Homo sapiens: one gene and its partner. The main gene of each other region encodes a partner of the protein of the gene in region 2 in a complex. Links are inferred from orthologs where the notes say so. Each region holds a gene or a part of one and is shown on either strand. Other genes may lie near its edges.

What was found.
Region 1: the proteins of SAP25 (region 2) and SIN3A are in contact, whole or in part, in an NMR structure (PDB 2RMS), measured with the Mus musculus proteins. The link is inferred for Homo sapiens from one-to-one orthologs. Residues at the interface, in NP_001075431.2 of Mus musculus: Ala208, Glu209, Ile211, Ala212, Leu213, Ala214, Gly215, Leu216, Leu217, Gln218, Met219, Ser220, Glu223; in NP_001103821.1 of Mus musculus: Leu121, Lys122, Val123, Ala126, Leu127, Leu130, Tyr144, Phe147, Leu148, Met151, Lys152, Phe154, Lys155, Thr161, Val164, Phe182, Phe185, Leu186, Pro187.

The regions. Positions count from the first base shown.
Region 1 is NC_000015.10:75,385,440-75,392,708, forward strand, and holds part of SIN3A (paired amphipathic helix protein Sin3a), read right to left. Parts: coding exon 6,803-7,269; intron 4,383-6,802; coding exon 4,213-4,382; intron 1-4,212. UniProt on the Homo sapiens protein: Acts as a transcriptional repressor. Corepressor for REST. Interacts with MXI1 to repress MYC responsive genes and antagonize MYC oncogenic activities. Also interacts with MXD1-MAX heterodimers to repress transcription by tethering SIN3A to DNA.
Region 2 is NC_000007.14:100,571,599-100,578,160, forward strand, and holds SAP25 (histone deacetylase complex subunit SAP25), read right to left. Parts: upstream 2,303-6,562; 5' UTR 2,145-2,302; coding exon 1,999-2,144; exon of another isoform or gene 1,803-1,998; coding exon 1,699-1,802; intron 1,615-1,698; coding exon 1,508-1,614; intron 1,416-1,507; coding exon 1,262-1,415; intron 1,154-1,261; coding exon 1,056-1,153; intron 974-1,055; coding exon 689-973; 3' UTR 630-688; downstream 1-629. Other genes in the region: LRCH4 (leucine-rich repeat and calponin homology domain-containing protein 4), read right to left, coding at 3,789-4,184, 4,273-4,410, 4,640-4,725, 5,096-5,179, 5,304-5,407, 5,488-5,556, 5,675-5,791, 5,899-5,960 and 3 more. UniProt on the Homo sapiens protein: Involved in the transcriptional repression mediated by the mSIN3A but not the N-CoR corepressor complex.

The DNA of each region.
Region 1 (7,269 bases), on a different chromosome or scaffold from region 2:
TGACTATCAGTAGCTTTTGTGACAATCTTAGGAAACTAATGACTAGAAAGTTGAACGTTTCAGAGTTCCCATTCTCATGTCATGCTATTTCTATTTTGAAATAAAAATCCTTCCAAATGAAACTTTATCATCAAAATGACAGAAGTGAAAAATAGATACAAGAAGAAAGCAAAACGTTAATTTCAATATTGATTTGTCTGTTTAAAAAACTTTAAGATGATCATAACCACCAAGCCATTCTATTTTTAGGAAGACACATTCTTTTTAAGTGTTAGGAACCATGATAACTATTTATTCTTAAGTCCTAAATGACCAGTATGTGTATTAGTAGATAACTGGACACAGTGAAAGGTCAGAACGGTGACTGAGTGTGGCAGAAAGGGCAGTATCTCCAGCAACTACAGATGGATAAATAAATCACAATGAGTCCAGATAAAGGATTCTGATACAACCATTAAAATAATGCTTATGAGTACCTGATATCATGAGGAAGATTAAGATACAGTGTTTTAGGAGAAAAAAGAAAAGGTGGAAAAAAACAGATGGAAAGCATGACTTCAATCATACATACAGATGCTTCCACTTTCTACTTTCTTTTTGAGACAGAGTCTCGCTCTGTCGCCCAGGCTGGAGTGCAGTGGCATCGTGATCTTGGCTCAGTGCAGCCTCAACTTCCTGGGCTCAAGCAACCCTCCCATACCTCAGCCTCTTAAGTAGCTGGGTCTACAGGCATGTGCCACCACGCCCAGCTAACTTTTTTGTATTTTCAGAAGAGACGGGGTTTTGCCATGTTGCCCAGTCTGATCTCAAACTTCTGAGCTCAAGTGATCCACCCGCCTTGGCCTCCCAAACTGCTGGGATTACAGGCGTGAGCCACCGCCTCTACTTTATACTTTCTTGTTGAAGTAGACTGTATTACTGATTCCCCACCCATACTCTCTTTTTGGATATCTGGCCCCTCCTCGAGTCTTCAGAAAAGACAGCACTACAAATCCAGAGACAGCTACGGAACTCCCACCCCCACTGCTAAGCAGATCAGATTCTCTATCTTGCTAATTGGAGATGACAGAGAGGGTGTTCAATAGATTTTTTGAGGAGGAGCATCTGTATGGAAAGGTCTAGTAACACTGGGACCAGGGGTACTGGGAGGGCAAGCCAAAGCCTCAGAGGCTGGAGGAGCCTGGAGCACATGCCGTATGTTCATCTGCAGAGCAAAGCACAAGCATGGAGCAGAAGTCCAGAGTGAAGGCATGCAGGAGAGAAAAATCACCTCCCAGCCCAATCCTTCCATGGTGTGGTCCTATTTTGAGTTCTGTACTTGGATGTCTGTGAGGTTGCCTATTGTATTCTTAATACAAATCCCTCTTAAGCCAGCCTACAATAGGTAAGATAAATGTAATGGCTTCACTTGGCTGGAATGCAGTGGTGCAATCACGGCTCACTGCAGCCTCAACTTCCTGGGTTCAGATGATCCTCCCACCTTAGCCTCCTGAGTAGCTGGGACTACAGGCATGTGCCACCATGCCCAGCTAATTTTTTGTATTTTTAATACAAATAGTGTTTCCCCATGTTGCCCAGGCTGGTCTCCAACTCCTGGACTCAATATATCTGCCCGCCTTGGACTCCCAAAGTGCTGGTATTAGAGGCATGAGCCACCATGACCAGCCTTGACTTTGAAATATATGTTGTACATTCAGTCAGCAGTGGAATCTGAGGGAACACCAAATATGAGGAGAATGAGAGAAGAGATACCTCCAGTTAAAGGAGTTGAGAAGCTTGAAAATGTTTTAAAAAGTCACTGTAGGCTGGGCACAGTGGCTCATGCCCGTAATCGCAGCGCTTTGGGAGGCTGAAGTAGGTGAATTGCTTGAGCCCATAAGTTTGAGGCCAGCCTGGACAACATGGCAAAACTCCATCTCTACAAAAAATACAATAAATTAGCCGGTGTGGTGGCCCCTTTGGTCCCAGCTACTTGGGAGGCTGAGGTAGGAGGTCAAGGCTACAGTGAGCTGATCACACCACTGCACTCCAGCCTGGGCAATAGAGTGAGACCCTGGGTTGGAAAAAAAAAAAAAAAAAAAGTCACTGTTTTGGGGTTTTCTGGATGAAACCTGTTTCCATTAAAAAAAAAAAAAAAAAGCGGGGGGTGGGTGGAGATAGTATTTATTACTGATTCAAAATCATAACCAGATACAGTAAATAATTGTAACTATTGTTTCGAAAACCAACCTCAGAATTATTAAAAGTTAGTTTTATTGGATTTTTTTTTTAAGCTGTGCTGGTGGTATGAAAGACTTCGTTCCTAGCTGAAGCAGCAGCAAGCCTGTAATCAGCAACATAAGCACAGGGTAACTGGAGTCTGTATTTTATATAAATTTCAGGGAAGTTAAGGAAGATTAGTCTGAAAAAGTATGACTATGGGTGACTATGTATCCATCTAATGATTTCTGCCAGTTACCATCCAGACCTCTTATGGGAAGGCCTAACAACTTCTTCAACTTATTGGAAACAACTATCTGACAACTTTCCCCCAGATGTTAAGGTTCATTTATATGAAGGGCTCTTCCTCAATCCTGTGTAGATACTGTGGGAGGAGTACAGAGGCATGCACCCTTCCAAAACCAAGGCAAAAGCATGGGTACTTTGCAAAGAATTCAATATTTTAGCCCAAGAGAACATTAAGCAACAAGCTCTTTCCTTCTACAGTGGCAGTGTGGATTCTAGAATTAGAAATTGCTTTTTACAAGTTTTCACTTAAGTACTTCACCGCCTTTCTGCTGAGCTATTCTATGGAAGAGGGCTGTAGGTAGCCACGGTACCCAGGTGGAACAGCATGATCCTAAAGCCCTACTTCCACAAGGAATCGCAGTGGCCCATGGCCACGTGGTTCAACCAGCCAGCCCAGAAGATCTGCAGATGCAAGCAAAAGTATACCACATTGACCTGCACCCTGCATCTGGACCCATCTGACCCATGGTAAGCTGCCCCACAGTGAGGTACCACACCAAAGTACAAGCTGGCAGGGGCTTCAGCTTAGAAGAGTTAAGGGTGACCAGCATCCACAAGAGGGTGGCATTAGTACACCATGTCCCTGTGGGCCAATGTTCAGCACCTGAAGGAGTTAAGACTCCAAGCTCAACCTCTTCTCCAGGAAGCTCTTAGCCCCCAAGAAGGGAGACAGTTCTGAAAAACTCAAATCAGCCACCCAGCTGACAGGACCAATAATGCCCATATAGTACGTCTATAAGAAGGAGAAAGCTGGAATCATCACTAAGAACTTTAAGGTATTTGCCAGTCTTCACACAGCCCACATCAATTTTCAGCTCTTTGGCATATGGGCAAAAAGGGCCAAGGGAGCCACAGAACAGGATGCTGAAAAGGAAAAATGAAGCCCTGCTGGGGACTTGCAGTCAATCAGCAGTAGAGCTGGGTCTCCAGAAAAAGAAAAAAGCAGTTAACCAACAATCTCTCTGGGAGTTCAGAACTCAAGTCCAAGAAGTAGAAATGTGACTATCTGTTACAAGCTATTTTTTATATCATTGTTGTAAAGAACAACATGTTTACAAGTTCCCAGGGTGCCACAGGAAGAACACACAAAACCAACCAGAAACCTAACTTAGAGGGAACCGCAGATGAGTGAGGTGGGCAGAGTATTATAAAAGATGTTATGTGAACCCTTTCTTATAAAAAGAATTTCAAATATTAAACAATGCAAGTACATAAGAGTTACCAACACCTTGACCAGGCGCAGTGGCTCGTGTCTATAATCCCAGCGCTTTAAGAGGCCAAGACAGGAGGATCACTTGAGACCAGAAGTTCAAGACCAGCCTGGGCAAAACAGTGACACCCTGTCTCTATTTAAGGAAAAAAAAAAAAAACTTACCAACACCTATGGAAGACGCAATGTTCCACACTGTGTGCTTACCCATGGCAGACAAGGTAAGAGATAGACAAGTTGTGCAGGAAGCTGGGGTCAGGACCACTGCACTCTACAGGTGGCCAGCAAGAAAGGATATGGGGTAGGCAGGCTCATACACTGCAACTTTGTTAACATGAGAAATCAGGCATCACATTAACCTCCCCTCCTCTCTTCAGAACCCTACGTTCATAAACACTGTTATATGAAAAAGTTGCCTTTCCTTTTCCTTGCGTGGCCCATCTCTAGGTAAGGATTTCTTCCCTTACTCACCCTAGCCTCCTCCATGCCCTCACCTGTCTGACAATGCTCTGGATCAGTTTGTCCATGGTAAAGGCAATGTAGGCATGAATGGTGAACATCTCTCTCAGTGAATCTTCATACTGTGATGAGTCTATGTTGCCATCCAGCAGGCTCCGCACCATGTCCAGGAAAGCTGGGTAATAATCTTCTACATCAACATCCACTGTGGGAGAGATGGGATTGGTGAGGCCTTACCTTGCTAAGAAAAGACTAGGGATAGAGTACAGGGCAAATCCCACAGCTGGCCTAAATGGCATTTGAAAGTATGAACACTAGGTATTCAAAATATACTCACTCATTCCAATGTAAACAGAGATGAATTCCGACAGGTGACTACAATCACCAGCACTATCAGAGTGACTCTGCAACTTTAACAGTGGCTTCTAATATTCTGACTACCATGCTAGAAAGATACTTCTTTATGGTACTGCTGGGCCACTTTCAGAGAGGAAAATATCCTAGGGAAGCCAGTCCTTCAAAGAGCTGTTGGCTCCCCTGCTGAGAGAGGAACCTACTCTCCCAGCCTGCACAAGAGCATTCCTCACATGGGTCACTTGCTCATAAAGCTATTTCAATGAAGCATAAAGTACAGATGAGGAAAGGCAGACACAGCCATACTCCAGCACTGGGAAACCTCTTGGGAACACAAAAATAGGAGTGCAAATTAAATCCTTTATGAATAATGAAGTAATCTGCATTTGTCAAAGTCCTTTTGTTTAAAAATGGATTCGCTACGTTGTATTTCACAAATTGCATTAAATCATCTGTAGTTGCTGCACATGAATCATTTCAATCACTAGCTAGAATAAATCTCATCAGTTGTTAAAGACATTTGGCAACTAGCAGAGGGCACAAGGAGTATTAAAGAGTGCTGCCTTTAGCTTACTAAAGACCCATTTATATAAAGTTCAAAAATAGACAAATCTAATCTCTAGTGTTAGAAATCAACAAAGTGGAAAAAGGACTGGTTATCAGAGTACTGGTTATGTTTCGTTTCTTGAACATAGGTACGTCTAGTCTGTAAAAATTCACTGAGCTGCACAATTCTGATTTGTATACTTTTCTATATATACATGCCGTACCTTATATGTATTTTTTTGTAGAGATGGGGTCTCACTTATTAACCAGGCTGGTCTCAAACTCCTGGCCTCAAGTGATCCTCCCACATCGGCCTCCCAAAGTGCTGGGATTACAGGTGTAAGCCACTGCACCCGGCCTATACATTGCACTTCAACAAAAAGTTGACTAAAATGAAAAAAGTTACAAAACGAACTATTTGTCACTGACTAATTGGTTACTTGCTAGTTGTGTTTGTGCTGGAGAAAAAAGGCTAGGAGCAAAACCAAGTTGTCTCCATTTATCTGAAGTCTGACGAATTCATTAAAAAACAGGCAAAACAGGACAAATACTGTTTAAAAGAGGCAACTGGCTTGAGTTTCATCACAGACTATCACATTCTTTAGCTCCATAGAATAGGTATAGGCTATAGACTCCAAAATATACCACTGCTATGAAAACTGCTTTTATGCCAGAATAAAGTTTTGAGTCCAAACCACAGATTTGTCCAAACAAGCTGTGGTAAGTGTGAGGGTTGGCATTATCAGACAAGACAACATTATGTAAGCCTCAAACCAGGTTAAGTCAGTGGCCAAGCCAGGAATAGGCCATTTAATTTCTAATTTCTACCCAAGTAGATGGAATCACCACAATGAGATCTAAAATTTATCTCTTTCGAGCTAGGACTAGTCTAGATAAAAGCTTTCAGAATTATTTTTCAGTGTCATTAGCTCCTCAACAGATAGAAAGCTAGGGCCATATCTGGGCTTCCTACATCAGCAACACATAAAAAAAAAAAAAAAGAAGAAGAAGATACACTCCTCAGGTTGGCTATTTCCTTAAGAGCCCAGAAGAAATGCTTCATGAAAAAGCTTTTGGCTCACAGCTCAAGTACCTAATTTATGACGTGAACTGGAAGCAGGCAGCACAAAATTACATAAAGCACATGACAGCGTCCTGAACCCTCACTTACTTTCCTTTTCCTGAGTTCTACATCTTTATCCCTGTCCTGCCTGTTCTCCATGTCTCATATCACCTTTTGAGTTCCAGTCTCCTTTCCATAAACTATTTCTACATATTAAGAATGAGCCATAAACCCCACTGGTTAAACAGAAGTCCTGCTCAAAAATATGAGAAAATTCTGTTTTAAGCACTAGGAATTTATGTTCTGTCATGGATTGAAATTGGCTGTGACAGTTTAGTCTCTATCTGTACTTTGAAACAGATGGCAGTAACCCAGAAATCTGCCATTTGAGAAATTAACTGTGATACCCCCTTCCCAGGTGCGTCCACAGTACCAACCACTGACCAAGTGTCCATGATCTAAGCCCTGCATAGGATACTTTGCACAAAGCAACACCACAAGCAACTAGAGCCTCCATTTTTCAGATAAACAGGTTCAGAGAGTTTAACTACACAGACTCTAATGCCTGTGCTCTATTAATAAAAGAAGCAGTCCCAAGTCTAGGTGGCTCTAAGGTCCTCAACCTCACACATCCTCTGTAAATCAGAGGTCTCGGCACTCACTAGGTTCTTTGAGACGTAGCTGAATGGCAGGGCTGTCACTCTTGTCTCGCTTTATGCCCAGCACTTCCCGTTCCCATTCTCTCTCTCGGTTTTCTTCTTCAATTTGCCGTTCGGCTTGGGAACAAATCCGTAGCAGCCTCAGGCAGAGAATCTGGTGCAGTCGCATAAAAATATACCAGTTGTTGTTGACATAGAAGAGGTTGTATACTTCATCCATTCCTCTTAATTTTTGAGCTGCTGTGTTACTAAACAGTAACTTGGACTTAGGGGGACTGCCCCCAACACCATTGTGCTTCTTAACTGCCCCTGTGGCTTCATCTACATCCATCTCTTCTTCTTCCTCTTCCTCCACATCTGAGAGATCACCTCTTTGGGCAAAGAGCAAATCTGGAATAAAATGATGCATGATTTGTTTTATCTTATATTTGTCCTCCTTCTGAATGCCTGTCTGCCTCTTCACATGGTGG
Region 2 (6,562 bases):
GCAACAAGCTGGGGTCCTGCCCCCTGTGTCCCTTCCAGCTGTGGCACCTAAGTCTTGAGTAGAAGGTTCTCCAAGAAGTTGGGCTATTTTATGGGAGAAAATTCTAGAACCTATCCCCGCCCAAACCACCGAGACTACACACTTCTGGGCTTTCTCAGCTGAAACCCTGATCCTGTTTCTCTACAGAGTTCGTGCAAGAATCTCTAGAGTCTCAGGTAGGCTGCGGCAGGGCCACCTTTCTGCCAGTGGTGACATTTACATGGACCGGCACCCTCCCCCACACACCTGCAGTGCATTCTTTGTGTCTCCTCTGAGCCAGACAACTACCCCACCCAGCCCAGAACTGAACTCCTGGAGCCCCAGCACAAGAGGTGTGGGGCTAGTGTCCCCTAAAAGTGAGGTGCCCCTACTTACTCCCCCGCCTGCTTCCTATACATTCAGCCCTGCACTGCCATGCAGACCACCCACCCACTCATTAAAGGGGCTCTGCCCAGTCAGCCCAGAAATGCCTTAGGTCATGGATACCCTCGCCCTCCGCCTAACACAGCAGGGGGTGATCTGCAGTGAGACAGAAAGAGACCCCATTCCTGCCTCTATGACTTACTCTGCTCCCAGCCACACGGAGCCTGTTTTGCAAACCAACACTGTTTTATTGTCAACACAACCAGCCCACTCTGCCCTGAGAAGGCTATGGACAATGGGTGTCTGGGGTCTGTGGGAGAGAGAGGTCAGCACCCTGAGAACTGCTGGGGCTACCACAGGGGCTGGGTGGGTCAGAGGTATGGTCTGGGGGGCCAACCGCGGAGGAGCTGGGCCTAGGCTCCCCCTGGCTCATCTGCAGCAGGCCAGTGAGAGCGATCAGCTCCGGCCCGCTGAGCCAGGCAGTGGAGGGGCCCCGGGAGGGTGATGGGCGGGGGAGCACCCTGGCAGACATGATGGGGGGCGGCGGCAGCAGTTTCAGGGAGCCCATCATCTGAGGAGAGAGAATGGAATGTGTTTCCTGCCAGGCAAGCCTGGAGGCTGGGGTAAGGACAGGGAGGGGAAAGAGCTCTCACCTGCTGGGGGGCCTTGGACAGGTACAGGGGAACACGCTGCCCCCGGGGCAGCAGAGGGTCCGAGAGGAAGACATCTTCACAGCACACCACCGGGAACCCTAGGAGGAAACACCACTAGGGTGGCGGGCTGCGGGCTCCCACCCCTGGGCACTGGTTCCCAGAGGAGTTGGGGCAGCCTTGCGCCCCCGGGGGACCAAGGGAGGTACCTGCATCTGGGGGCGCCTGCTGTCCATTCCAGTGCCCTGTGGCAGGGGCCACGGGCCTGAGACCCCTGCCCGAGGCTGCTTCATACAGCGGCCAGAATGAGGGGTGACACAGCGTCCGGCCTGAGAACGAGGCTCCTGAGCTACAGTTGGCCCCCTAGGGTGAGGAGGACAGAGCACTGGAGCCTCAGGCCACCGCACAGCTCCCTGAGCACCCCAGCCAGTCCCACAGGTTTGCCCCCAACTCACCCACACCGGCCGAGGTCCTGCTTTGGCTTCATACTTGGGGTCCCAGGGCGCTAGTGGAGTCATCCTCGAGGGGGCCACCTCCCAGGCCACCTGGGGGGAACGGGGATCTGGGGGGACGCTTGGGGATTATAACAGGCTCACAGTCAGTGAGAGGCTCTTAGGGGTAGTAGAGGCAGCAGGGCCTGTCCTACCTGGGGCTCCGGGGGGCTGCTCAGTGGCCGGGCCTGGCAGGTGGTGGGGCAGCAGCAGCTGCTCTCTCCAGATCCAGGAAGGGCTACGGGATGGGGGCTGTGGGCTGGAGGGGCAGGGACTGAGGCTGCAGCCACACCGCCCCCACGCACCCTCCCCTGGAGCCCAAGGGTGCCTGGTGCAAGGGAGACCGAGGGACCCAATCTCCAGCAGGGACAATGGAGAAGCCTCCGTAGAGCGCGTGGTGAAGGCATGGAGGCCCCCAGTCGCTGTCCCCCCACGGCTCCGTCCGAGCCCCTCACCTGTCCCATGGGGGTGTCCCCAGCTCCCTGGGGGCGTCCGCTCCGGCGCTCCAGGGCTCGCCCTGGTCCTTGCCCGCCGGAAGGCCTGGTCCCTCGGGCGCCTCCTCCGGGCCCGCGCCCCACCGCGGCGGCGACCAGGGCAACATTCCGCGTTCCCGAGCGCAGGACGGTACCGCCGTGTCCCCGCCGCCCGGCCCGGCCCTCTCAGCCTCCCTCCGCGGCGCGGCGCGAACGTGCCCTCCTGGCGAACCCACCCCAGAGGCCTCGCGGCGACGCTGGCGCCCTGTGCGTCTCCCGGCCACGTGGCGCGTGCCCCCGCCGGGCTCCCGCGGGCGCCCCCTGGCGACTGGGCGGTGAATTCCGGAAACAGAGGCCCCCCCAACAACCCCGCGACGCACGTGCTCTCAGACACAGTTACACCTGAGGGCCACCCAGAGGGCTTCTGGCTTCTGTTTATTGCGGCTGACACGACACCTGCGACACCCGCGGTCCTTCCACCCAGACCCTCGACCCCAGAGGCAGCCAGGCCGGCAGGCCAAGGGTGCCCAGGCCCAGGCCACCCTCACCACGTGCTTCTCTGAGAGCGCGGAGCCCAGGCGCGTCTTCTGCTCCCGGGGTCCCGGGCGGGGTGGGCCCTGTGCCCCCACCTTCACCCCTAAGGCCGGTCCAGCAGGGCGTGGACGACAGCAGCGATGTAGGGGAGGCCCCTTCCCGGGGCCCCCTCCTCTTCCAGGATGTGGTGGGGCTGGCACAGTGACTCCTGGGGGAAGGGGCCGGGTTAGCTTCCCCACGGTGCCCCCTGCGGCTTCCGGCCTGTGGCAGGGGGTCGGGGGCAGACCCGAGCATCACCGTGCGCTCGGGGCTCGGCGACAAATGAGACGCAAGAAAGCTGTCAGCGATAACAGAAGGGAGGTGACACGGGGGGTTGGCGGACGCTCCGGGAGCATGAGAGGCCGGCATCTCAGGAGGGAGATGCTGGTGGGCACAGAGCCATGGCCACAGCCACCAACACGCGGAGCAGACGCGCGCGCGCGCGCACACACACACACACAGGCAGGGCGGCCACGGTCTGTACAGTTTATACACAGAGATAGGGACCCGGCCTGGGCCCCGAACCCCTACAAATATAGATCCTCTCTACAAAATAGAGATAATTTAGCCCCCCCATAGCAGCTGTTGGGGGGGGAAGGGGAGGGCACAGGAGGAAGGGGGAGACTCCAGCTCCTGCCACCCCTCACGGGGTACAGAGGGCAGGGGCAGGGCCGGCGGGGACATGAAGGCACCGTCAGCACTGAGAGGTGGGGACTCGTGGGGCTACTGGAGGGAGGCCAGAGGCTGGGGGCCCAGGGTCTGGGGGCACCAGAGTGGGGCCTCTGAGGTCAGTGTCTGTGAAGGGGGTGCACTAGTGTCTTTGGTTGGGGCTGAAGGCACCGCAGGTGGGGTCGGGTGGAGCAGGGACCTTATAAATAGAGAGGAAGGGAAAGGGGTGAGGGAGGGCCGATTTTGGGGCCTAGGAACCCAGGAGCCGAGTGTAGGTGACATAGAGCAGCAGCATGAGGACCACGTAGAAGACGACGAAGCCGCCCAGACCAGAGGGGGGCCAGAGGGGCGGTAGGGCCTTGCCCCCCACCCGCTTCACGGCCTCCAGCGCGGTCCGCAGCCCCCGGGCAGTGCCCTGGAGGAGATCCGAGGGCGAGCACAGGTCAGCCTGGGGGAGAGGAGAGCAGGTGGACAAGGACAAGGGACAGACGTCAGCAGCAGCAGCAGGACAGTCCCTCCCACCCCTGCCCTCACGTGCTGGGGCCAGAACCACGCCCACATGCTGACGTGCTGGGCAGGGGGAGTGCAGTGCAGGAGGAGTGCAGGGCAGGGCATGTGCAGGACAGGTGACATGCAGGACAAGATGGGGCCTGCAGGGCAGGGGATGTGTAGGACAGGTGACATGCAGGGCAGGGGGCATGCAGGGCAGGGGGCATGCTGGGCAGGGCAGGGGCAGCCTGTGCCTTCATCTGAGAGCAGACATCCGCTGCAAATGGAAGCCCACCATCCATGCCACATGCTCGGCTGAGTCCGGCATGCCACCACTCTTTAGAAAGCAGCCCCCATACCTCAGGCACCCCCATTTTTCGACAGGCTTCTAGAAAACTCTCCACATTCTTCCGAGCCTTGAGGGCACTGAGTTTTGGCTGGGGTGGGTGAAAGAAGAAAATGTGGTAAGGGAGAGGCCACAGGCGCCCCGGCCCATCCCCCACCTCTTCCCCAGCCCCAACTGACCACAGCAGGGGAGGGCACATGGATGAAGGGCACGGAGCGCGGCCGTAGCTGGTTGGCCAGCTGGCACAGGATGACCCCACTGGCCAGAGCCTCGGCCAGGTCCTCAGGCAGGGGCCGCTGCAGCCGGGACTCAAGGACCTGGCAGTGTAGACCACATAGAGCAGGGGTCAGGGAAGGAGAGGCGTCTGGGAGGCAGGGAGAGTGGGGGGCTCAGGGCTAGCAGGGAACTTGTGCCTGTCCCTTCCTGTCCTCAGGGGAGGTGCCAGAGTGGGCACAGAGGATGTGGAGGGAGGCTGGTCCCAAGGACAGCAACACAAGGAGGTGCCCGGCCCAGGCCCCTGCCCACGCAGCTCCCGCCTCTGCTCACCTGGCGCAGCTGAGTCATTAAGTCCTTCTCATCTGGAACCTGGGGGTACCGCCGAGGTCTCAGGACAGAGTCTGGTGAGGAAGGGCCTAGGAGAAAAAGGGGGGCATGGGGCTGCCTCCACTGCTCACCACTGACTCTGTAGCTGGGTCCCAGTGGCCTGGCACCTACACCTCCTGCCTCTCTGCTTGTGGGATTTTTTTTTATTTCATGGAGATGGGGTCTCGCTATGTTGCCCAGGCTGGTCTTGAATTCCTGGGCTCAAGCGATCCTCCCACCTGGGCCTCCTAAAGTGCTGCGATTACAGGTGTGAGCCACCACACCCGGCTTGCTTGTGGGATTTTCAACGCAAAGGTACAAAAGGTACAACAGACCCAGAGGGCTCCCAGGGCAGAAGGGTGATGTAGCCGTTGGTGCTGGCAAGCACTGGGTCAGCACTGGGGAGGGCAGGACACCCACCTGAGCCACTCTGAGAGGAGGAACGGAAGAGGAAGCTGTTTGGTCTCTGAATGGAGCCAAGTGGCCGTGGAGCAGGTGCTGTCGCTGGGGCCGGAACCAGGGACACAGCGACAGGGGCAGGTGAGACAGGCATCCCCTCTGTGTCCCTCTCTCCCAACCAGCCCTCACCAACACAGGCCCCATCCTCCTCCCAAAATCCCTGTCCCACCTGGTCCAGCTATGGGAAGGGGCTCTTGGGAGGCAGGGGCAGGGGCGGGGGCTCCCTGCCCCGCTGCAGCCCCTGCTTGGGAGGCACTGGACTTAGGCGAGCCGCTGAGGAGAGACAGAAGGGAATTAGAGGGATGATGGTCATAGGAAGAGGAGTGGGGAGGGGATGCTGGCAGGAAACCTACTTGTGCATGGCTTGAGTGGACACGGCGGCGGCCCCTCCCACAACAGCCCTGAGCCCTGGCTTCAAGAGGCTGGAACAAGGAGAGGTGGGGTCAGCTAGCCCCAAGGCAGAACGGCTCAGCGGGGCTCGGTGGCCCCATTTCCAGGGCTCAGTGTCCAGCAACAGCCCCGGGCGGCCCTGGGTCCCACCTATCCTTCCTCGGGGCCCCCCACGCCCCGCTCTGCTGCTGCTGCCGCCGTTCCCGCTCCTGCCACAGCTGCAAGGTGTCCGGGCGCCGCCGCTCCTCCCCTGCCGGCTCCTCCCGCCTGAGGGACCAAGACAGGGCAAGAGGGGCAGACCCCGGGGTCAGGGAAGGAGGCGGTTGGGGGGTGGGAGGATCGGGCAGTGGCGTCAGTTTGGGGGCTTGGGGTACCTGCTGCTTGGTGCCCTCTCCCTGTCCCCTGCCCCAGGGCTTAATTCGGGTGGTCGCTGCTCCTAAGGAGAGAACAGCAGAGCAGCTGAGGGCAGGCCTGTGCCCACGCCTGCCCTGTCCCCTCCTCCAGCTCCCCTCCCTTGGGAGAGGCATAGCTGGGCTCTCACCTCCACAGTGCCTCGCTCTTCATCCTCCCCGGGGACATGGCTGTCGATGAAGTCAATCTGCACAGGGTCTCCGTCCGCTGGGGAGGCCAGCATGTCAGCAAGTGAGCGGGGACCCAGGCCCTGGTCCAGCCCAGCTCCCGGCCAGCCCTGCTACTCACCTGAGCCATCCTCCTTGCGTTCTCTGGGTCCCCGGGGCTCCCGGGCCAGCTCTGAGATCCGGAATGACAGCTCTGAAAATTCATCTGTTGACTGTAAAGGCAGAGGCAGAGATGGGAGATGGCCTCTCTGTACATGGGGGCTCAGGACCTGGGGGGTCCTGTGTGGGACTAAGCTCAGGGTCTCTGCTGAGCCAGCCCTTCCCTGGGATGCTGGGCAGAGGGAAGGAAGAGGACAGCTCCAGCCTCTGCCTGGCACCCTGCAATTTGGAGGTCCCCAGTTCAGAGGTGCTCTCCCAGGGCTGACACCCTCAATCACCCATGGACAGGACGCCCTTACCT